Linked DNA regions of Homo sapiens: all the other regions are linked to region 1. The links come from fine-mapping of genetic effects on gene expression. A gene starts in region 1. Each other region holds a variant in brackets. All regions are shown on one strand. Distances are between the middles of the regions.

Evidence for each region.
Region 2: its variant is fine-mapped to the expression of SIRPB1 in whole blood (INTERVAL, PIP above 0.99).
Region 3: its variant is fine-mapped to the expression of SIRPB1 in breast (GTEx, PIP 0.98). The same link has a PIP of 0.9 or more in cerebral cortex and nucleus accumbens.
Region 4: its variant is fine-mapped to the expression of SIRPB1 in whole blood (TOPMed, PIP above 0.99).
Region 5: its variant is fine-mapped to the expression of SIRPB1 in whole blood (INTERVAL, PIP above 0.99). The same link has a PIP of 0.9 or more in lung.

Annotation. Positions count from the first base shown.
Region 1 is chr20:1,618,033-1,622,548 of GRCh38, reverse strand. It overlaps SIRPB1 (signal regulatory protein beta 1), which reads left to right and starts at 2,540. Exons shown (of 6, transcript NM_006065.5): 1 at 2,540-2,680. The coding sequence starts at 2,605.
Region 2 is chr20:1,569,589-1,574,104 of GRCh38, reverse strand. It overlaps SIRPB1 (signal regulatory protein beta 1), which reads left to right. Exons shown (of 6, transcript NM_006065.5): 3 at 2,068-2,385; 4 at 2,968-3,300. Among named protein-coding and RNA genes, the nearest start is that of SIRPD, 14 kb to the right of the region's middle. The variant A/G (reference allele first, on the strand shown) is at 2,321.
Region 3 is chr20:1,912,654-1,917,169 of GRCh38, reverse strand. SIRPA (signal regulatory protein alpha) reads right to left here. Exons shown (of 8, transcript NM_001040023.2): 2 at 1,715-2,071. Among named protein-coding and RNA genes, the nearest start is that of SIRPA, 20 kb to the right of the region's middle. The variant G/A (reference allele first, on the strand shown) is at 1,716.
Region 4 is chr20:1,559,374-1,563,889 of GRCh38, reverse strand. It overlaps SIRPB1 (signal regulatory protein beta 1), which reads left to right. Exons shown (of 6, transcript NM_006065.5): 6 at 1-2,505. It overlaps LOC107985409 (a long non-coding RNA gene), which reads right to left. Exons shown (of 3, transcript XR_007067493.1): 2 at 3,225-3,345; 3 at 2,353-2,438. Among named protein-coding and RNA genes, the nearest start is that of SIRPD, 3.9 kb to the right of the region's middle. The variant G/A (reference allele first, on the strand shown) is at 2,567.
Region 5 is chr20:1,527,764-1,532,279 of GRCh38, reverse strand. All of the region lies in intron 2 of LOC105372499 (a long non-coding RNA gene), which reads right to left. It also overlaps the pseudogene RNU6-917P. Among named protein-coding and RNA genes, the nearest start is that of SIRPD, 28 kb to the left of the region's middle. The variant G/A (reference allele first, on the strand shown) is at 2,157.

The sequences.
Region 1 (4,516 bases):
AGCCTCTGAAACCATCAGCCAATTAAACCTCTTCTCTTTATCAATTACCCAGTCTCAGTCTCAGGTATTTCATTATAACAATTATAGAAAGAACAGATTAATACATCCACCTATTTGTTTTTTAAACAATTTAGCACTAATTATATTTTTTCAAAATTCTTCTTTTTATTACTTTTCTCAGATACCTGTTGTTACTGCACACCTACCTATTCTTGTTTCACACGTGACTTTGTTTTATGGATTTACTTTCTTTTCATTATCTCTATAAGGTTACTAAATATGTTAATGTTAAAAATATTTTCACATTTTATATTTTTATTTTCTGAGGTATTATTTTCTAAGATGTTATTTTCATTGCTGTTTTTGTTTTTTAGTTATTGTTTTTGAATTTATTATGATGTCGCTTTTCCCCAAATCTTTAGTGATTACTGCTTTCACTGTAATCTTTACAGGAATAATGCCCTGAGTGATCATGGGCTGTCAGCACTTTATGGAACATGGCACCTATCCCAACCTTGCTGTGGAGGCTGCGCCTAATTGACGTTATGGCTTCTTCTCTGCTTCCTTCCTGAGAGATATCTCTCCCTTCTTATGAGAGGTGTCATAGTGAAGGCCATGGAGTGTGACAACCTGTGTTCTAGTTCTAAAAGCTGGGTGATGTTGAACAAATGTATTATTGCCTGCGTGCCTCAAGTTTCCTCACCTATAAAAAAAGGTTAATGGTAGTGCTAATTTCATGGGACCAGAGTGATGAATTAATGAGGTAACTGACAAAATGCTTGGCACAGTACCTGGAGCACAGGACATCTGCAGTAAACACAGCAGCTACTACCCTTCATGTCATATAGAGACTAGTTTCTTGTTTTAAAGTGTAATTTGGCATCGATTAACATGATTTTATCATTTTTATATTCATTTCTGTGAGTGTGGAGCAGGAGGTGATGATTTCACCCTCTGTGCATCTGCCACATTGAAAAAGAAATTTGCATGGAAATGTGATGACTTTTACAATTTCATTTGACAATTACTCATGATAGGTGAAGGATTGCAAGCCCAGCATGGGAAAGAGAGGTTTCCAGACAGGTCTTTCTTAGTCACAGATGATGGAGGAGAAACCATTTCTCCTACCAAGGAAATTTTTCTAAAGCACAAGTATGTCAGGGAAGCAGTGAACTCACCCTGTACACAAATGTAATTATAGCCACAATTTTTTGGTTATAATTAAATATGAATCAAACCTTCTGTATGGCTTATATTACTCTTACCATATCACTACAAGGTGCATGTTATAACTTCCATTTACATGTAATTAAGTTAAGGCTTAGAGAAGTCAAGTGTCTTGTTGAAAGTCACACAGCTGGAGATTGTAAGAAAAGGAATTCATCTACAGATTGACAAAAAGCAGGGTGAAGAGGATCCAGAGGGAGAAATTGATCTCAGAGTGTCAGAGGTAGACCAAGTACACCATAAAAGCTGGGTTCCAGAAGTCCGGGGAACATGGGAGAAGGCCACTGGTGGGAAACTCAGCATGCAGTAGAAATCCATTTAAAAGCAATATTTGAGTTCCCTCTCTTCACCTGGCACCATGAGTATCAATAATAACCTACTGAATCTCAGGGATGTATAGTCATTATCTCTTTTGATGTTCACTAAAACATGGCAGTGAGACTTATTATCCCAAGGTTAGAAGGCAAAACTGAACCTAGGCAGGCCCAGTAACTTCCCCAACTCCTTAGCACATCTTCTTAGGGTATTTATTCTCCCTCCCTCCTCAGTTCCCATCTGAAGACAGTGATGAATGGAATAGGTGTTCTATGTGCAGAGCAAAGAGTATTGAAATCGATGTGACTGCTCCAGGAATCTGCCCTCCATATTCTCCCCCATAATAAACATATCCCCTTTCCATAACCCATAATCCCCACCTCACCTCACAAAGCAGATCCTTATTACCCTAAGCCCACTTCCTCTCCTGGAAGAAGTCAGGAAATAATTCCTTCTGCTGGGTGCAGGCATATGAAAGTGCTAACGGCCACATGAGACTGAATTTGGGCTAAGTTTTGCCATTTATATTTATAAAAGTTCGGAATAGGGAACCATTTCAAGAGCAGACCTGTTCCTCTCCAACACTGAGCAGGTCCAGTGATCCCTCATCCTGCCCCAACTGAGTAGCACTTGGTTGAGGCTGTTGTAGAATGAGACCACAAGCCAACCACATCCTGAGGTCTTGAGATGGAAAGTTTAGGAAACATTTCATAACCACAGGTCCTTCCTGGCTTAAGAGCACCAAATGGCAAATCACCAAGAAGACATAAAGATGGGGTTAGGAGTCATGGAAGGAGTTAAGACCTCAGGTGGGAAGGAAGCATTATTTCTGCTAAGCCTGTCTGATTCTCCTGAAATGGGGCATGCATAACTGCTTGCATTGTAGCTGCTTGCTGTTCCTGATTTCTGTTTCACAATCCAGAAGCAGGTTACTGCTTCACTCCATCGCAGCCACTTCCTCTTGAACTAAGGGAGGCAGGGCTTGTCTTCTCTCCTCAGAGCAGAGTCTGCGATCTTCCCAGCACAGACGTTTGGACAGAGCAGGCTCCTAAGGTCTCCAGAATGCCCGTGCCAGCCTCCTGGCCCCACCTTCCTAGTCCTTTCCTGCTGATGACGCTACTGCTGGGGAGACTCACAGGTGAGCACTGCCTTCGGTTAAAATCTTTTTTCCTGCCCACTGAGCCATGGCCTGTCCCTGGACTTTCAGGGATTCCGGACAATGACAAGTGCTGCCAAGAAAGGCCAAGGATTAGGCTTTGACTGAGAGCAGAAAATCAGGGAGCTGAGCACTTTCTCTGTGGATCTGCAGCTGGCTACCAGAGGCATTGAACCACAGGACGATTCAACCACCACAACAACAATTACTTACATTTTGATAATATTTCAATTGAAAAAGCAGAGAAGAATCATTATCTAAATCCTCACCAGTCCTGAGGCCCTAGGGCCAAGTGACATGCCCAAGTCCACAGAGTAAGCTCAGAGACACCCTAACAGGGTTATGTGGCTCTAGGCCCAGCCCTCTCTCTTCACCAAACTGAGGATGTGAAGTCTGTAATAGTGCTCACTTGAGTAGGGCAGTGGTGTGGTGTATCCTGGGAGTGTTCAGCCACCATCCTCCCTAAGGGTGCTCCTCACTTTGTCCTCTGTTCCCCCATGCTCCTCCCTCCCCTGTGACCTGATTCTTACCACCCATTTCTCTGTGGCCTCTTCCTCTTTAAGAAGTTCCACATTTGCTGCTTACTGGGTCCTATATTCCTTTCCTAGGGCTTCCATAACAAAGAACTGCAGGCTGGGTGGCTGAAACTACAGATATTTACTTCCTTGCAGTTAAGGAGGCTGAAGTCCAAGATCAAGGTGTCAGCAGGGTTAGTTTCTACTGAAGTCTCTCTCCTTGGCTTATACAGGGCCATTTTCTCTCTGTGTCTTAAACACATGATCTTCCTCTGTGTGTGTCTGTGTCCTCATCTCCTCTTCTTATGAGAATATCAGTCTTGTTGTATTAAGGCCCACCCCAATGACCTCATTTAACTAAATTACTTCTTAAAGACCCTGTCTCCCAAACTGTAACGTTCAGAGGTGCTGGGGATTAGAGCTTCAACACATGCATTTTGTGGGACACATTCAGCCCATAACAGGTACTACAACCTCCTTTGGTTCTCTTAAATTTCCCATGGATAATTTCTTTCCCCTTCCCAAGACAGGCAGGATTGGAGGGCCTTTCCTGGTGCAGCCTGGGAGAACCCTGCTCACAGCTCCCAGACAAGTTACCTGTCCTGATCCCTTCTCAGGCCATGGAGCTGACCCCAGAACCACAGGGCTGGGCACAGCAGCCTCTCAATTCCCCACTGGGCCCTGCTGTGATGTCACCTCACAGGCCCTAGAGGGCAGGGGTCTCACTTTTCAAATTATTTTTCTCACACATACACTGTACCCAAATGACAGCAGTAAGAGTTTAACAATTGAGCTCTTCCTACCATGTAGACACAGTTATTAGCATTTTGCCTGTTTTAGCTCCACTAATCCTCACAACATCCCTGTGTGAAAGCTGCAACTATTATCCCCTATTTCCAAACAAAGACTCAGGCAGAGGGAGGAACTTGTCCATTCATTGTCCCCTACCTCAGTCAGTGGAGCAGCTGAGATTCAAGTCCAGGTCGACCGGCTCCAAAGTTCATTCTTTTAGTCGTGTTATGCTACTAGCAGAAATATTAGAAAATGCAGGGAAGTAAACATAGAATTAATTATTGCCTACCACACTTGTTAGCAACAACCAGAGTTACAACTGTGATGTATGTACTTCTAAATTTGTTATTAATGTGTTGGATGCTTTCTATGGGCCACATATTTTACTTTCTATGGGCCAGATATTTTAATGAGATTTTAACGTGTGTTGTAATTTTATTTAATACACAAAACAAACTTATATACTATCACAATAGGTCACACTTTGATATATATTTGTGAATGTATATGT
Region 2 (4,516 bases), 48 kb after region 1:
CTCCTTCTTCCAAAATGCTTCCAGCTTCCCCTGTGATCTTACTTGAAAGCCAGTTCGCCAAACATGGTGGTTGCTGCTCCTTTTATCATTTGGGTTTTTTCTGGCAGCTGCGGTGAGTAGGGTTTGAGCCTTTCCTTGGTGTTTGTGTGCCTCTTTGTTCTGTTGCCTAAAGAATAGCTATGCAGCTCCAGAAGCAGTAATGACCAAACCTCATGATTACAGTCACAGGGGTTATTTATTAAGCACCTACTACATGCCAGGCTATGCCCTTGCACTTACCCTCACTCATCTTCCCAGGGTGGGGTTTCTATCTACTTTTGGCCCTTGGCCACCAAGGATCCTCTCAGAGTCTCGCCCTACACAAGGGCTCACATGAGGACCCCCTCTGACAAATAGAAGGAGGATTGAAGTGCTGAGAGGTACAGAGAGAGCAGCCAGCATCAGGCTGCCAAGAAGCCCTCAAAAAATCGGAACTGAAGACAGCCTCTCAGCCTTCTAGGGACACCCATGCTGCTGGTGTCTCAAAGACTTGACATCTTCAAGTGACACCCTCCTTACTGTGCTCTCACATTATTTCACGCATATCAGGGAGCAAGTTAATATTGGCAAAGTCAAACGTATAATATGTGCTTTCTAAGAGGACGGCAGAAGGTTCAAGGTAACAATTAGCAATTTGCAGACACCCTTAAAATTCATCTACATGGAGAAACTGCACTCGTTGTTCTGATTCTCCAATGTGTTTGCTTTCAAGGCCCAGAATAGGTTTCTGTCTGTTGGTGTGGCCTGGGTCTTTGTCTCTTGTAATTAATTAACGATGAAAAAGCTAACCACCTTTGGCTTTCTTAGTACTCAGTGATCCTTGTTTTTCACCCAAACCTGTCCTAACTGAAGATTCAGATTCCCAAAAATTTCCTCTTTTCAAATTTAGGACTTCCAGCAGATTAGAACAACTAACAACAACAGCAAAATGATTGTTAGGAAGGCCAAAGGAAATAGCATTTATCTGAAAGATAAAGAGGTGCAATTTGGGTACACTGAGTCAGTGAAACCCTGAATAGTGTCCCGTATGGCAATACAGGACAGGTTTTTTATAGGGGATTTTCACAAAAGGTTGTTTTTGGAAACAGTTCATTAGCTGGTTGAAAATCCTCAACTGCAAACCCACTCTCATTGGTTATTTCATTAAAGTACTCCAGGTGAAAGAGATCAAAATCCCACGGACCCTGGCTTCAGTTGTTATCCAGGTCTATCTACTGCAACATCCTGTGGCTTGACCTTTAGCAGGTGTGATTCCAATGCTCTTACAAACTCTTGGCTCTACGTTAAAGCTTTATCCTTAATTAATGCCTTTTATTTGACAGAACGAAATATTTGTGAAAAGAAAAATACGGAATGTTTCATATTTTTATAATACCTAAAGAGAGACCTCTGTGTATCTGTAAAGTCTGGGTTAAAGATAGATCTGTGTTTTTTGGGGGAAGCATCTTCTGTGTTTGATCCAGAGCAAAACTGCTTCCATTGCCCCATTGAATCCTGGCGACATCCCAGGAAGTAGAAACGCCGTCCTCCGTCCTCCTGTTTTGCGGATGAGGAGCTGGGGTTGTCAGCCCACCCCTGTCCTGGGCTGAGCAGCCTGGTTGCAGCTCTCACGGTGGTGCCACTTTGCCATTGATCCCTGTATTGGCTTCTATAAATGCCCTCTCTGAGGTTAGTGAGCCTTCCGGGGGAGGACAGCTAGGACCAGTTAATAACATGGAGGGAGACCAATCAGTAATTTTGTTCCTATGCCCAGATTGGTGGAAGTCTCCCTGTGTGGAGAGGACTTTGAACTCAGGCCTGGACTTCCCTCTGGGCCCTGCCCCTACTCACTGTCTGACCATGGCCTGGTTCTCACCTCTAAGAGCTGTTGTGTCCTGATCTGTAAAATGAGAATAAGGACACTGCCTTCACGACATTATTAGAAAGATTAAAAACTAACGTCTCAGAAGGTTCTTAACATGTCAAACGCTTATCATCAGTGATGGTCATCTGAGTCATGTCTCCTGATTATCGATGGTCCTTTTGTAGCCAAACCCTCTGCCCCCGTGGTATCGGGCCCTGCGGTGAGGGCCACACCTGAGCACACAGTGAGCTTCACCTGCGAGTCCCATGGCTTCTCTCCCAGAGACATCACCCTGAAATGGTTCAAAAATGGGAATGAGCTCTCAGACTTCCAGACCAACGTGGACCCCGCAGGAGACAGTGTGTCCTACAGCATCCACAGCACAGCCAGGGTGGTGCTGACCCGTGGGGACGTTCACTCTCAAGTCATCTGCGAGAT[A/G]GCCCACATCACCTTGCAGGGGGACCCTCTTCGTGGGACTGCCAACTTGTCTGAGGCCATCCGAGGTAGAAGACCCTCACACCCAGCCCAAGCCCACACCTGGCTGCCAAGCCCACTCCCCTCTCCCCAGGCTCCAGAGCTTGAAAGGCCTGGAATCTAATTCCTAACTGTGTTGTCCACCTCCCATGCACCTAGGTGAGCCGGTCACTTACTATCATTTTAATGGCAGCTGTCAGGGGACCAGCAACCATGTGCCAAGCTCTGGGCTACAGAGTTTCATTTATTTCACCAAGAGCAACTACAATTAGTGAGCACCTACTAGGAGCCAAATCACTATGTGCTCGGCGATTTCACTGATTTTGCTACAGTTCTTACATTCCAACTGCATGCCAGGGGTTGTGCTTGTAGATTTCACTCATCCTTAGCCTAGCAGCAGCTAACAGTCCTTGGGCACCTACTGTGCGCCAGGCACTGTGCTTAGTAATTTCACTCATATGCAACGAGTGCCCTCAATGTCTGAGCACCTGCTGCCTGCCTAGCACTGTCCTGGTGATGCCCTCACTGTGTTGGTGGGAGCTACGTTATTTAGCCCTCCCTGTGATCTGTCTGTGCCACAAGATCAGAGCTTCTGCCCTGTGCTGTTTCAGTTCCACCCACCTTGGAGGTTACTCAACAGCCCATGAGGGCAGAGAACCAGGCAAACGTCACCTGCCAGGTGAGCAATTTCTACCCCCGGGGACTACAGCTGACCTGGTTGGAGAATGGAAATGTGTCCCGGACAGAAACAGCTTCGACCCTCATAGAGAACAAGGATGGCACCTACAACTGGATGAGCTGGCTCCTGGTGAACACCTGTGCCCACAGGGACGATGTGGTGCTCACCTGTCAGGTGGAGCATGATGGGCAGCAAGCAGTCAGCAAAAGCTATGCCCTGGAGATCTCAGCGCACCAGAAGGAGCACGGCTCAGATATCACCCATGGTGCGGTTACTTCCCATTTTTAAATTTTGTCTTTTTCTTTAATGTTAAAAGCAATATTCATGCTTGTCATAAAATAAGCTAGAAGTCTATAAATATAAAGTAGAATTTTAACGTCTACATTAAAATCCTACACTCCATGGGTCACCACTACTTAGAAGGTTCAAGGTAACAATTGGCCATTTGTAGACACCCTTAAGCCCCATCTACCAGGAGAAACTGTGCGTCAAGTCTGATGCACAACTTGATAGATATTTTGACATAAATATACATTAAAGGAAAAAAGAGAGAGGGAGGTGATCCGTTTGTTTATGAAGTCCTGTGTCTCGCCTTCTTCTGCATTTCTCGCCAGCACAGCACCTTGCCTTTTACACTTTCTAACCTCTACCTTGTCCCTATTCTATCCTAAACTTTTCCATCCGCATCTGTGACCTCAGCCACCAGTCTCCAGCATCTGCTCTATAAATTTCAGAAAGACAAGTGAAGTTTAAGCCTGGACAGACCCCCAGGTGACCTGGTCACAGCACAGGCTTCTTTTGTGTTCTGATGGTGATATTTGACCAACAATAATCACAACCACTCTGCACATTTACTATATGCAAATTTCTGTTCATCTCTGATCTCCTTTCCTGCTTCAAACACCCAGTGAGCTTGGAGTTTTACCAAAGGGGAAACCAGGACTTAGGAAGTAATGAGGGATGTTGTTGAAGACTTCTTGTCATTAGACCAGGTTATTGGTCCAAAGTAATGAAGGTAAATCTAGTCCCTGAGGACAGGCTCACTACCAGGCTATAATGGGAATTTGTGCTAATTAGAGAAACTTTCCCTTTCTGCTGCGCTTTGTCCCAAGGACCCAAATTTGGCCAGTGTTCCCCCTCTCTATAACCAAAATATGTCTTATTTCCCTCTCTTTTAATACCAGGAGGGGTCCCTCTACTCCAGTCGAAAGACAATCTTTGAGTGCTTTGACCCGAATACATCCTCCCACATCTCAGGGTCCCACAACTTCCCCATCAGGGCCCAACCCCAGCATAGAAGCCATTAAAGCTGACATTCAACATCCTTTGTGATTCTGCTACTCTTCTAATGATGGCTGGGGCCCAATCTTCTATTCTTTCTGCCCTGAGGCTCCAGGAAATAAGAATAAGGACTCAGGTTCCTTCCAAAACACCCTATGATGTTTGCGTCATCTCCTGGGTCAGTGCTGAGTCACGGATTT
Region 3 (4,516 bases), 290 kb before region 1:
TGCTGCTCCCTGGCCCCCTCCCACCTCCCTCCTTTCTCATCCAGGGCATCATTTAGGCTGACAGCATGGCAAAGAGGAGTGAGCACTCTGCTAGGAGTCAGCAGATCTGGGTCACACCTGAGCCACGTATTTGCTGTGATTGTCTAGGCACGAGATGCATCATCTGGGAACTTCAACGTCTTTTCCTGTAACATCTGCACAATCAGGATAAAGCCACCCTCCCTGCCTATGTCCAGCGGTTGTGGGGAGACTTGATTGTTATAATGTCTAGGAGGGAAATTAGGCCATATCCACACACATTAAAACACACACCCCCTCTGATCTAGCAATGGCACTTGCAGTGGGCGTCTCCCACCTGAGTAAGGTCACACATGTATAAGGTCATCCACTGCAGGACTGTTTTAATAGTTCAAGTTTGGGGACAAGTTACGTATCCATCAATGGAAGATGGTAAAATAAATCTGGTATTTCCATAAGCTGGAGTATTCTGTAGCTATTACACAATGGAGCAGGTCTCTATCCTGATATGAAATCTCAGTATCAAATGATATGGCTTACATTTGGGAGCGGTTTTCCAATCACCAGTGGGCCTAACGGTCTGAATGTGAATATTCTGAACCTTTAGGAAACTGATGGAAAGGAGAAGTGCTGGCTTCCTGCTTAGCAGTTCTGTTCAAGGAGCTTTCAGTCGGCACCTATGATGCACCAGGCTCTTCTATGTAAACAATGGCTAATGAAGGAGCCTCCCTGGAATCAGATGTGGGCTCTGGTCCAGATCCTGTCACTAACTGGGCCTATGACTGTGGACAAGGCCCCTGTCATCTCCTGACTTCAAGTTTCCACCTGTAACTAGGGGTTGGGCTGGATGGTCTGAGGGTCCTTCCTGTACTAATGTCCCAGGATTCGGAGTTAGAACAAGGATCCTGGGGCTCTGGCAGTAAATACAAAATGAGCATCTTTGCTGCCTTAACGGAGGAACCCAAAGTCACCTAGAAGGGAGACCTCCTCCCTGGGGTGAGAGACATTCTATGATGACCCAGCTTTGTTCAGAGCCTTTAGTGACGCATGAATCAGTCCCTAAATCACACAAGTGTTTTTCTAAAAGACCCACAGAAAATGCCCAACCCTCTGGCTTCTCCTCTCACCAGGGCCATCAGATTAAACAGTAAATCTGTGCCTTTTAGGAATCTTCTCAGTTGGTGTTTGGTGATGAAATAAAGGAAACACACCCTCTCTGCTCCCTGCCCTGGGTGGATCTCTTATTGGAAGGGATGAGAACACAAGCTTGGCGGAGCCTGGCACACAGTAGGTTCTCAGTGAGTGCCTGTCACATAGAGGAGACTCGGCTGCCCTGAGAGGGAAGTGCTCTCTGGAGGCAGCAGGTGAGGTCTGGTCCTGTGCCTGGGCAAGTCACACTATCTGTCAGTTTCCTCATCTGTGGAATGAAAGGGCTGGGTCAGCTTTGAAGAGGCCAGGGCTACACAGCCAGGCAGATGAAGGATGCAGATGTTCCCACCCTTTACCAGCTGTGGAGCCTTCAGCAAATAGCATGACGTCTTCAGGCCTCAACTTCCCTTATTTGTAAAAGGGGGAGACATCAATTCATGGAAAGGAGCACCTACCACCACACCTGATCATTGCTCAAAGAATGGAGGGTGTTATTATTGAGTTACTGTCACAAACCAGAGGCAAAGGAGGCCCACGCTGTACTCACC[G/A]CGCACAGACAGCTCAGTGCCTGCTCCAGACTTAAACTCCACGTCATCGGGGCTCCCTTTCCGGAACTTCACACAGTAGTAGGTGCCGGCATCTGCTGGGGTGATGTTACCGATGCGGATGGAAAAGTCCATGTTGTTTCTCTTTGTGAGGTCTGAAACAGTTGTTACCCGGGGGAAGTGGCCTTCTTTTTGATTGTAGATTAATTCCCGGCCTGGTCCAGCTCCTCTGAACCACTGGATGGGCCCCACAGGGATCAGAGAGGTCGCAGTGCAGCGCAGAGTGGCTGTCTCTCCAGCTGCAACCAACACGGACTTGTCAGGCTGAATCACCTGCAGCTCCTCCTCACCCGCCACTCCTGGAAAGGAGCACAAAGCAGTCATTTTTTCATCCTTACGTGATCCTCTGTGTTTCCTCAAGTGTTTATCAATGACGTTCATTGACTGGATGCACACCAGAAGCAGGCTGTGAGATCAGTATAGTGCATGTATCATCTCATTTGACCCTCACAACAAACCTGCAACATGAGCCTGTATTCTAAGTGGGGACACTGAGGCACAGAAAGCTAAATGACATGGCAGAGAGTGGGTTTGAATGCCTGGACCCTCTCTGGAAGAGTCACATCTGAGCTGGGCTAATTCTAATCTGAATGAGCCAGAAGGGAGCCTGGTATTCCAGACAGAGGGAACAGCCTGGGCAAAGACTCAGAGGTAGGGGCCTGGCATATCTGGGGCTGTACAAGGTGTTAAGATTCTGTTTCTGGCCTGGCCCAGGATGCAGGCCCCGAGAAGGGAGGCTGTACTCAGCGGTTTGGGCAGTAGGAGAATGTAGTTTGAGTTCTGGATCAGTGGCCTATAGCTGTGTCCTTGGGCCACCACTCAGGTAACCAAGAATATCCAATGTAGACTCGTGCCAGTGTGTTTGAGTCCCCACCTGGAACCCAGGACTGAGCCTGGCTAGCAAAGTGTCACACAAATGCAAGAGCTGCCCTTAGTTTGCCCTTACTGCTCTCAGCCTTGGTTTCTTCATCTGTAAAATAGTTACTATGACCCCACCTCGATGGATCTCTGGGAGGATAAAATAAGCCAAGGCTGGGGACAGCGTCCAAATGCAGCATCTGGTCTTTAGAGTCATCGGACCTGGTTTGAAACCTGGCTCGCCCCTTGTTCTTGTGGGACCTTAATTTATCCATCAGTTTTGAGTCTCAGTTTTCTTATCTACAGGATGGGTAGAACAGCCCCCAGGCCTCTGCTTTGTTCTGAAAAGAAAACGAGATCACACATAGAAGTCACTTAGCCCTGAGATGGGCCCTGAGGAAGTTGTTGTTACTATACATTGAATAAACAAGGAGGTGGCTGTGGCTCAAACTTCACTCTCACCAACACCTGCTGATGCCCTGTGATCCAGGCCTCACTGTGATGGGGACACACTGGAGCTGGACCCAGTCCAGGCCTCAAGGGCTCCCAAATGGGCAGCTGGAAGGAATTGTAGAGGTTGGCTGCAGGAGCCTGAGCCCCAATCAGAGACACTGGGGCACACAAGACAGGGACCCTGGGTGGAGAGATTGGGGTGCACGGGGGGAGCCCAGACAGGAAGAGGGCAGGACGAGCTTGTCATGAGATGCGTTGAAGATGGATAGGGACCAAGTGAGAACAGTTCAGAGCAAGGCAGAGCCAGGGCCTCGATTCTGAACAAGGTGAGGTACAAGAAACAAAAAAAAGAAAGATCATGATCATAAAGACCTCAGAGAAACACATGCCTGAGAGACAGACGCAGAGTGAGAGAGCGAGCTAGAATAGGGGAGAAGGAGAGAACCAGGTAGACAGAGGAGTGGCAGCTACCTGGTATGCAGGTGACAGGTGACCTGGGGCCCCAGTTGGGCTCTCCACTGACCCTTCATGTGACCTTGTCCTGCCCTGACCTGGGCCACCTTTGCCTTGTACATCAGACAAGGCTGCGGCAGATGTCCAGAGCTGCTGTGCCCCTCTGGCTCTGGCTGGGGAGGAGAGAGACCCTGTGAATTTGCCCACCAACCCATGGCCTGGCACCACCCCACTGGCAGGGGCAGGGCAGCCAGGGAAAGAGGCTCACAGACCCCTATCTGCCCTCACTGCAGGAAGCCCAGGGCTATCTGCCCATTGTCCTGCCTCTTTCTCCCATTCCCAGCCTCACCCAGTCTTGACTCTGGCAAGGGATCACCCTTGGGGCCCGGTTCTCATGGCAGGTGAGTGGAGTCTCAGAGTGCCTAAGACCACTCCACCTGCTTTGGGTGTAAATATTACCATTTCGACTTCCTTTTCCTGATCAACCACTTAAGACCTCAACTGCTTTTATTATCAGGAAGTCCAGCTTCTCATTTCATTTCCATTTGAAGTTGAACATGGCAAGATCTTCATGGCACAGGAGAAAAAAACAGAACCCACAGTGGACAGACAGAACCCACAGTGGACAGAGGCCCAGCCAGCATCAGACGGCCTGAGAGGGGTGAGGCTGGTGGCCAAATGTGTGGGAGGCCCGGGAGGCCCATCCAGGCGGGGACATCAGAGGCAGCACCAGCAGCACTGAGCTAGGAACTTTCCGGATAGGTCTGTATTTCAGCCTCGAGACTGGACCAACTGGAAAGGCTGCCTCGGGGAAGCACAGTTGCTAGGGCCAGCAGGCCTGGGTGACAGCATGGCTCCCCTCTTAGCCACCTCTGTACCCACCTTCCCTGGACCCCCATTCCATCATCCATGAAGTGGGGTTCCGGCATCCACCCCAGCACAGTCATGAGGACCCTGACACGGTGGTATGCCTGCTGCAT
Region 4 (4,516 bases), 59 kb after region 1:
GGATGGGCCTGGTAGGAGGTGACTGAATCATGGGGGCGGACTTCCCCCTTGCTGTTCTTGTGATAGTGAGTTCTCATAAGATCTCAGTGAGTTCTCATGAGATCTGGTTTTTTGAAAGTGTGTGGCAAGTCCCCCTTCGCTCTCTCTCTCTCTCTCCCTCCTGCCACCATGTGAAGAAGGTGCCTGCTTCCTTTTCTCCTTCCACCATGGTTGTAAGTTTCCTGAGGCCTCCCAGTCATGCTTCCTGTTAAGCCTGTGGAACTGTGAGTCCAATTAAACCTCTTTTATTCATAAAATATCCAGTTTCTGGTAGTTCTTTATAGCAGTGTGAGAATGGGCTAATACACGGAGCAAGCATTGTTTCTTTTCATTTGTTTATTTTATTTTTATTTTTTTGAGATGGAGTTTCACCCTTATTGCCCAGGCTGGAGTGCAATGTCGTGATCTTGGCTCACTGCAACCCCCGCCTCCAGGGTTCAAGTGATTCTCCTGCCTCAGCCTCCTGAGTAGCTGGGATTACAGGCATGTACCACCACACCCAGCTAATTTTGTATTTTTAGTAGAGATGGGGTTTCTCCATGTTGATCAGACTAGTCTTGAACTCCCGACCTCAGGTGATCCACCTGTCTTGGCCTCCCAAAGTGCTGGGATTACAGGCATGAGCCACCATGCCTAGCCAGCAAGCATCATTTCTATTATACCTTGGTGTTTTGCCATCTTTCTAAGTTTGGACTAGCTTCCAACATCTTATCCCTTGAATTTTCAATATTGTGGAATCACTCCAGAAGATCCTTTCATGTGAAGTTTTTTGCTGGCATTTCAACCTTTGGGACATCTTCAGCCCTTTTATTACCACTCCTCTCCCATTTGTGGCAGTTTGCGTTTACTACCTCCCTCTGGCTGCCTATCTGAAGTTCCTGCATCAGGGTCTACATTGCCACAGTCAACTATTTGTACTTCTAGAATTCCACTCACATTCAATTTGAACCTCACTTGCAGCATTTTCACTTCTCATTTCTTCACTGCACTTTCATCTTGGTTGCAAAATTCCTCTTTCAATTATTCATTTCTGTAAAATGTCATATGGGCTCATCACTGGGAGGCAAGGAGGCAACCCAACTATAGGATTTGCTGTTTGAGTAGGAGAGCCATAGGGACCAATCACCAACAGACTTTGAAAGACACAACATGACTGGTTACTGATCATGACGAGCTTTTATTACCATGGTGATTTGTGGACTGAAGAGCTAGCCCAGAAGTTTGTACTCTATGCAAATTACATTAAATTTACTATGGCACCTAAATTTTGAGACTTGTGTTGTGGGACTGATGTTACTTAACTAAACTATGGTAAGAGAAATGCATGCATGTCATCACCAAAGTGAGAACTGCCTGTATTTATCTATGTTACGCAAATGGAATGTCAGTTATATCGTGGGGGGTTGGGGGTGGGGGAGGATTATCTGTATCCTCAGTTGCCAGAACTGTGTCTGCCATATAATAGGCTGTCAATTTTTTTAAATGAGTGAATACATCATTGAGGTCATTGGTTTCTACTAGGTGTTGGATTTCAAAAGAAAACTTCTCTTCATTTGATCACTTGGCTTGTGTGCTGTATTCTCAAGCTCTTTCTTTAAAGACTACTCTCTCTTCTTTCTGTTTAAAACATTCCATCAAAAATTCAACATCCTCTAGAAAGTAAGAAAGTGCTAACAAGAAAAAAAAGTCAACCCCAAAACCAAAACCCACAGTGACTGGAGTACATCAAAGAGGCGCAGGAACCAACTGAAAGAGCTCCCAAAGGCCAAAGCTGGAACACTTTCAGCAAAAAAATAAGTAAAGTAGTAATGAGTTATAGTCCAAAGTATAAAATAAATATCTGAGTCCATACTGATATAAATAAATGATTGAATAAATTAATGGGAAAGAAGAGAAGAATCTCCAGTGCAGAAGAGTCCCAGATAATTTATTTATACACTCCACTCTAAAGGAGGTGGAACATAACTTCCACTCCTGAAGTGTGGGCTGTGCACTGCGACTTCTTTGCAAAGAGTACAGCATGGAAAAAAGGAGAAAAAATAACTTTACAGTGGAAAAATCTGACAAATACAGCTTCAGCCAGGTGATCAAGAGTTCATCAACAGTTATAAATCAACATCAAGAATCATAAATCATGTCACTAATATGTACCTTTAATATGATGTGATGAAGATGACACTTTTCCTCTATTACCTTCCCCCCAAAACTCACAACCCCAATCTAATCATGAGGAAAACATCAGACAAATTTCAATAAGGAGGCATTCTGCAACATCGGGCCCAGAACTCCTCAAAACTGTCAAGGTCATCAAAATCAAGGAAAGTCTAAAAAACTGTCATAGCCAAGAGAAGCTTGAGGAGATATGACAAGTAAATGTAACAGGTATCCTGGATGGGATGCTGGAAGAGAAAAACGACATTAGGTAAAAAGAAAAGATCTAAATAAACTATGAACTTTGATTAATCATAATGTATCAATATTGGTTCATTGATTATAATAATGTATCATATCAATGTAAGATGCTAAT[G/A]ATAGGGCTCAATTTTTCTGTAAATCTAAAGCTGTCCTTAAAAAATTAAGTCTATTAGAAAAAATTAACGTCTTGTCCTCAGCTAGGTTTTATTTGCCTCTTGTACCCCGTGGGGAACAATGCAAGGAAATGTGCGGTAGGGAGACTTTGTTGATATTCCAAAGTTTTATCTCACTTCAAAAGCCTGAGGTTTCCTTTCCTCTCGTCCTTCCTCTGTCCACTACCAGAGCTCACCCCAGATCTAGGCACTCAGATCCCAGAGGAAGTGGCTTCTCAATCCCCCGTGATGCTCACCCTAAACTTTTCCCATTAGTAAAATCCAGGTCAGACCAAGTGGGATCAGAAAACTTTGGGTTATGTGGGTGAGCTGGGATAGCTTTGAGGACCTGACTATGAGTGAGTGAATAATGTCCTGAGCCCAAGTCTTCACAGGAACAAGTTGTTCCCATGAATTGTGTAATGGATGCTGAGAGGCACCTGGCTGTGGAGATGGTCCTCAGCATCAGCTCTATTTGCGATTGTCTCAGCTGAAGGGAGTGCCCTTGCTTAGGTCGTATCTGGTAACAAACCACATCTCATTGGACTCATCAACCTAGTCGTATAAAGGCCCAGCTCTCTTATCCTAACTCAGAGCAACTCTGGAGGAATATCCTAGTACCAGGCTCCATGCAAGGTCAGCTGAGGTCTTCAATGGGACTTCATTGCAGCCCAGCTTCTTCTTCTACCCAGTCCTGCTTCCATCTTCTCCCGTCCACAAGTGTTGATCCTAAAAGTACTCCCTGAAAGATAACCTGCTTGTTCATCTTCACCCCAGAGTCTGTCTCCCAGGGAACCCAACCTGGGACAGTGAAGCTATGCTACGTATCAGAAAGGTGGGGATCCCTTCATCTCTAAGGGAGCAAGTCAGTCACAGAAGAAAGCCTTGTTTATAGTACCTCCAGATTAATGAGAATCCACAAAAATGTTTATTCAAGAGAGGGACATAATTAAATCTATGTTGTAAAAAGACCAGTCTGGCTGAAGAAGGAGAAAGAGATTATAGGGGGCAAATAAAAATGGGGGTACCCTAGTGAGAAGGCAATTGTTCTTATTCAGGCAAGAGATGATGATAGAGATGGAGAAAGAGATTAATTCAGAAGGGATTTAGGAGGTAAATCCAATAGGGCCTGGTAGGGGCAAGATAGGAGTGTGAAACTATGCCCCCAAAGAGTTAAAGAAACCAGTCACTAAGAAATTCTTGAGTTTACAGGATAGCAGATAAGAAAAAAAAAAAATTGCTAAACTGCCGAAACTTCCTCCACTTGTAGGATAACAAAACTGACTAAAATCTGTTGGAACCAATATGGCCAACTGGAGTTTGCTCAGAATGAGCTTGCTGATGTCACAGCCTGAGTTTCTACCACGTATTTCATGATGACGCCCCAGGGTTTTGCACATGGGAGCCGTGAAGAGGCATAGAGAGATAACTGTACATGCCCAAGGACTTTCCAGACCTCCCCTTTCCTTTCACAAATCACATACTAATCCCAGAATCCAACCCCTAAACTTTTGCTAATAAAACTACTGCCTTGAAGCCAGCACATGGAGCTAGATTTGAGGTAGACTTCTGTCTTCCTGTTAGTCAACTTGCAATAAAAAGCTTTTCTTTTCTCAAAAGCCTGGTGTCACAGTATTGGCTTCTAGCACATCAGGCAGCAACCCCCTTTCACTTGGTAACAAGTGGATAAGTGAGGGTATAGAACATGAGTCCCTTCCTGGTTTGACAAACTGCTTAGATGATGGTACCATATACAAAACAGGCATGGTGTGGGAGAAGATAAGGTTTGTGAGTGCAGATCTGAAACTCAAACTTGAATATTTAAGGTATACAAAGAGGCCAGGCTCAGTGGCTCACACCTGAAATCCCAGCACTTTGGGAGGCTGAGGCAGGTGGATCATCTGAGGTCAGAA
Region 5 (4,516 bases), 90 kb after region 1:
AAAAATGAGTGTGATAATTTACTGTAACAGAACCATAGAAACATACATCAAGATAATTTAGGGGACTTTCACATTTTAGCTTACAGCCATGGAGAAACAAGGAGAATGGTAGGCAGTCTTTGGGGACAAAGAGAATGTCATACAATTTTAAAGAATTGAAACTAAAAAGTTATGCACAAAGCACTGTGAGTGACACCAGCATGAGATGCCTAAGGACAATATTAGACCCAGGAATACAAGGAATAGTGCCTTCACAATTCTTAGGGAAAATTATTTCAAAGCTAAAATCATTTACCCAGACAATCTATGGAGTTTGCAAGATTATCAAGAATTGCTTTTTACACCCTCTTATGCTTAACTAAAATAGGAGTCATACAAAAAAAAAAAGGTAAGAATGAGAACTAGGAATAGGGGATTGGAAACCCTAAGATAACAGTTGTGCAGGAGGCATAGAAATGGCCACTGGGCCATTCCAGAACAGGAGGACTTGCAGCATTACTAGGGACATCTCCAAAAGATAGAATCAGTAGAATACTTAAGCAGTCTTCAAACTCATGCCCACCATTTCTAATAGTATTTAACATTACGTTGAAGTATTTGTCAATGCTTTTAGAAGGAGAGAACAATAAAAAGCATATTAATTGCAAAGGAAGTGGGAAAACTATCTCTCTTTGTAGATGATATGGTATCTGGAAAACTTAATAGAATCAACATTAAACTGCTATAAAAAACAAGATAATTTAAGTAACATAGTAAGTTATAAAATCAACAAACAGAAATCAACAACCTTCACATATACAAAGAAAAACCAGTTAGAACATACAGTGAAAAAAGACAAACACATAGTACAATAGCAAAATTAAATTAAATTAAATAATTGGGGCAACTTCTACCAAAATAGTGATGGGGACTGGATTTACTCTCTTGCTAAAAATCTGGGCAAATTATTTAAAACATGGTAGACAAGACATTGGATACCAGGCAACAAAGGACAGTGATCCCTGTGAAATGGGACATAAATGAAGCGAGCCCTAAGGCTGCCCTAAGAGTACTCTCTGAGAAGGCTTTAAGACCACCATGCAGAACGAGATAACTCAGGTGGAGCCCGAAGTTCTCCCTGAGTTGTTAAGAAGGACCTGGATGTCCACAGAGGCCAAGTGACTAGAGTTTTCAGGGTAGGGCACCAAAGAGCAGGTCGTTTCACAGAAAGAGAACTCCAAATATCTGTAAAAGGTCCCCATTGAATATTCAGTGAAGTATTGAAAAGTGTATTATGTACATGAGAAAAGTACATGAGGCCAGAGGAGAAAAATTTCTGGAGCTTACGCAAGGCTAAGAATAGTGCCTGATCTTTACAACCTGAGTGAAAAAAACTTATAATTCATGGGACATCTGGTAGAATACACAGAAGAGTTCTGCCTCAGTAAAGGAAAAAGAATTAGCCCTAGACCAAATGATGCTGGAGGCATGCCTTGCAAAGCTTAAGTCCAAAACATGAAAAGTTCAAACCGCTTCCAGGTAATTTAACCATGTCCCAAAACAAGCTCAAGCATATTTATAGAAAGGCAAAATACCCACTACCCATTGAAGTAAAAGTCACAATATCTGTTATCCAATAAAAAATTACCAGGCATGAAAATGGCAGGAAAATGTGATTCATAATAAGAAAAATTAATCATTTGAAACTAACCAGAAAAGACAGGTGATAAAATTAGTACACAAAGAAATTAAAGTTATTATAAGTATACTCTGTATGTTCAGGAAGCTAGAAGAAAAACTGAATATGTGAAGTAGATGCACGGAAAATATTTAAAAGATCCATATTGAACTTTTAGAGATGAAAGCTGCAATATCTAAGATGAAAAATAGACTGAGTAGGATTAATAGCAGTTAAGATGTTGAAGAAAATAGATTAATGAACTTAAAGACACAACAACAGAAACTATTCAAAATGACACAGAGAGATAAAAATGGAATATATAAAGCCACATCCAAATATAAGACCAAAAAAATTAAAAACTGTATAAAAGATAAACAGAGCAGCCAGATGCAGTGGCTCACGCCTGTAATCCCAGCACATTGGGAGGCCAAGGCGGGTGGATCACGAGGTCAGGAGATCGAGACCATCCTGGCTAACACGGTGAAATCCCATCTCT[G/A]CTAAAAAAAAAACAAAACATTAGTCGGGCGTGGTGGCGGGCGCCTGTAGTCCCAGCTACTTGGGAGGCTGAGGCAGGAGAATGGCGTGAACCCAGGAGGTGGAGCTTGCAGTGAGCCGAGATGGCACCACTGCACTCCAGCCTGGGCGACAGAGCGAGACTCCATCTCAAAAAAAAAAGATAAACAGAGCATCAATCAGCAGCTATGGGGAAATTTCAAGTGGCCTAATAGATATGTATTGGAGACACCAGTGGAAGAGGGGACAGAAAGAATATTTGAAGAAATAATGGTCACATATGTTCCAAATATGATGAAAACTGTAGACCCACAGATCCAAAAACTCGATGAACCCCAAGCACAAACCAAGTTGCACAAACCAATAAAGAAAATATCTTAAAAGCAGCCCCCCAAAAAGAAATATTAAATACAAAAGAACAAAAAATACAGGAGACTTTTCATCAAAAATAATGCAAGCTTAAGACAGTGGGGATACATCTTTAAAGCTTTTTTTCTTTTTTTTTTGAGACAGAGTTTCACCCTCATCACCCAGACTGGAGTGCAGCGGCGCGATCTCGACTCACTGCAACCTCCGCCTCCCAGATTCAAGCAATTCTCCTGCCTCACCCTCCCGAGTAGCTGGGATTACAGGCACCTGCCATCATGCCTGGCTAATTTTCGTACTTTTAGTAGAGACAAGGTTTCACCATATTGACCAAGCTGGTCTCGAACTCCTGACCTCAGGTGATCCACCCTCCTCGGCCTCCCAAAATGCTGGGATTACAGGCATGCCCCACGATGCCTGGCTATTTAAAGCATTTTTAAAAAGAAAACAATAATTAATTAGTCATTCTAGAATTTTTACCTAGCAAAAATATCTTTTAAAATAAATACATAAAATTAAGCATTTAATTTATTTATCTATTTTTTGAGCCAGTCTTGCTCTGCCATCCAGGCTGGAGTTAAGTACTCACTTTGGCAGCACAGATACTAAGAGTGAAATGATACAGAGATTAGTATGGCCTGTGTACACGGATGGAATGCAAATTTGTGATGCATTCCATATATTTTCCCAGTTTTGCTAGATGGAAAGCATTCTAGAGATGTATAGTGGTGATGGTTGCACAACAATGTGACTCATGCCACTGAAACTGTACTCTAAATGTGTACTCAATGCCACTGAACTGTACACTAAAAAATGGTTAAGATGGCAGATCTTATGTGTACTTTACCACAATTTTTGAAGTGAAGAATAAAGATTTTATCAATCATACAAAAGCTGAAAGAATTCATCATCAACAGATCTGCACTACAAGAAATGTTAAAAAGAAGTCCTTCCAACAGTAGTGAAATGATACCAGATGGAAACCTGGATATATACAAAGAAATTAAAAGCAAGAGAAATAGTAACAATGTGGGAAAATATTTTAAAAGTATATTTAAATGTACTTAAAACATAGCTGTTCAAAGCAAATACAATAATAATATATTTGACAAATTATAACATACATGGAAGTAAAATGTGTGAGAAAAATAGCACAAAGACCAGGAAGAGAGACACAGAAATATATTACTGTAAGAATTTTATGCTATGTGTGAAGTGATACCTTATCACTCATGGTAAATAATGATGAGTTAATAATGTATGCCAGAAATCCCAAAACAACCAGTAAAATAACACAACAAAGAGTAATAGCTAATAAACTGACAAAAGACATAAATCAGAATCATAAAAATCAATCCAAAAGAAGACAGAAAATGAGGTACACTGGAAAAGAGATGAGGCTAGTAAGTAGCAAGATCATAGATTTAGACCTAGTCATATAAATAATCATATTAAATGTAAATGGTTTAAACACACCAATTAAAATAAAGTGATTTTTGCATTATATTTTTTAAAGTAGGATCCACTATTTGCTGCCTGCAGAGAATTGATTCTCTTCAAAAATAAAGGCACAAATAGATTAAAAATAAAAGGACAGAAAAATATATGCAACATCAACAATAATTTTTTAAATATGGAATGCCTACATTAATATCAAAGTGTATTTAGAACAAAGAAATTATGAGAACATAGAATATCATTTATAATAAGCTTATCAATTAATAAAATATACCAATTCTAAATGTTGATGCATATAATAATAGAGTTTCAAAATACATAAAACAAAACTCATGGAATTGCAAGAATATATAGAAAAATCTACAATTATAGTCAGATCTCAAAACCTCTCTTTCAATAATTGGTAAAAAAAGGAGGCAGAAAATCAGTAAAGATGTAGAAGACTTGAACAGCACTATAAGCCAACTTGAGCTAACTGATACTTATAGAATGCTCCATCCCAAAACAAGAGAATACACA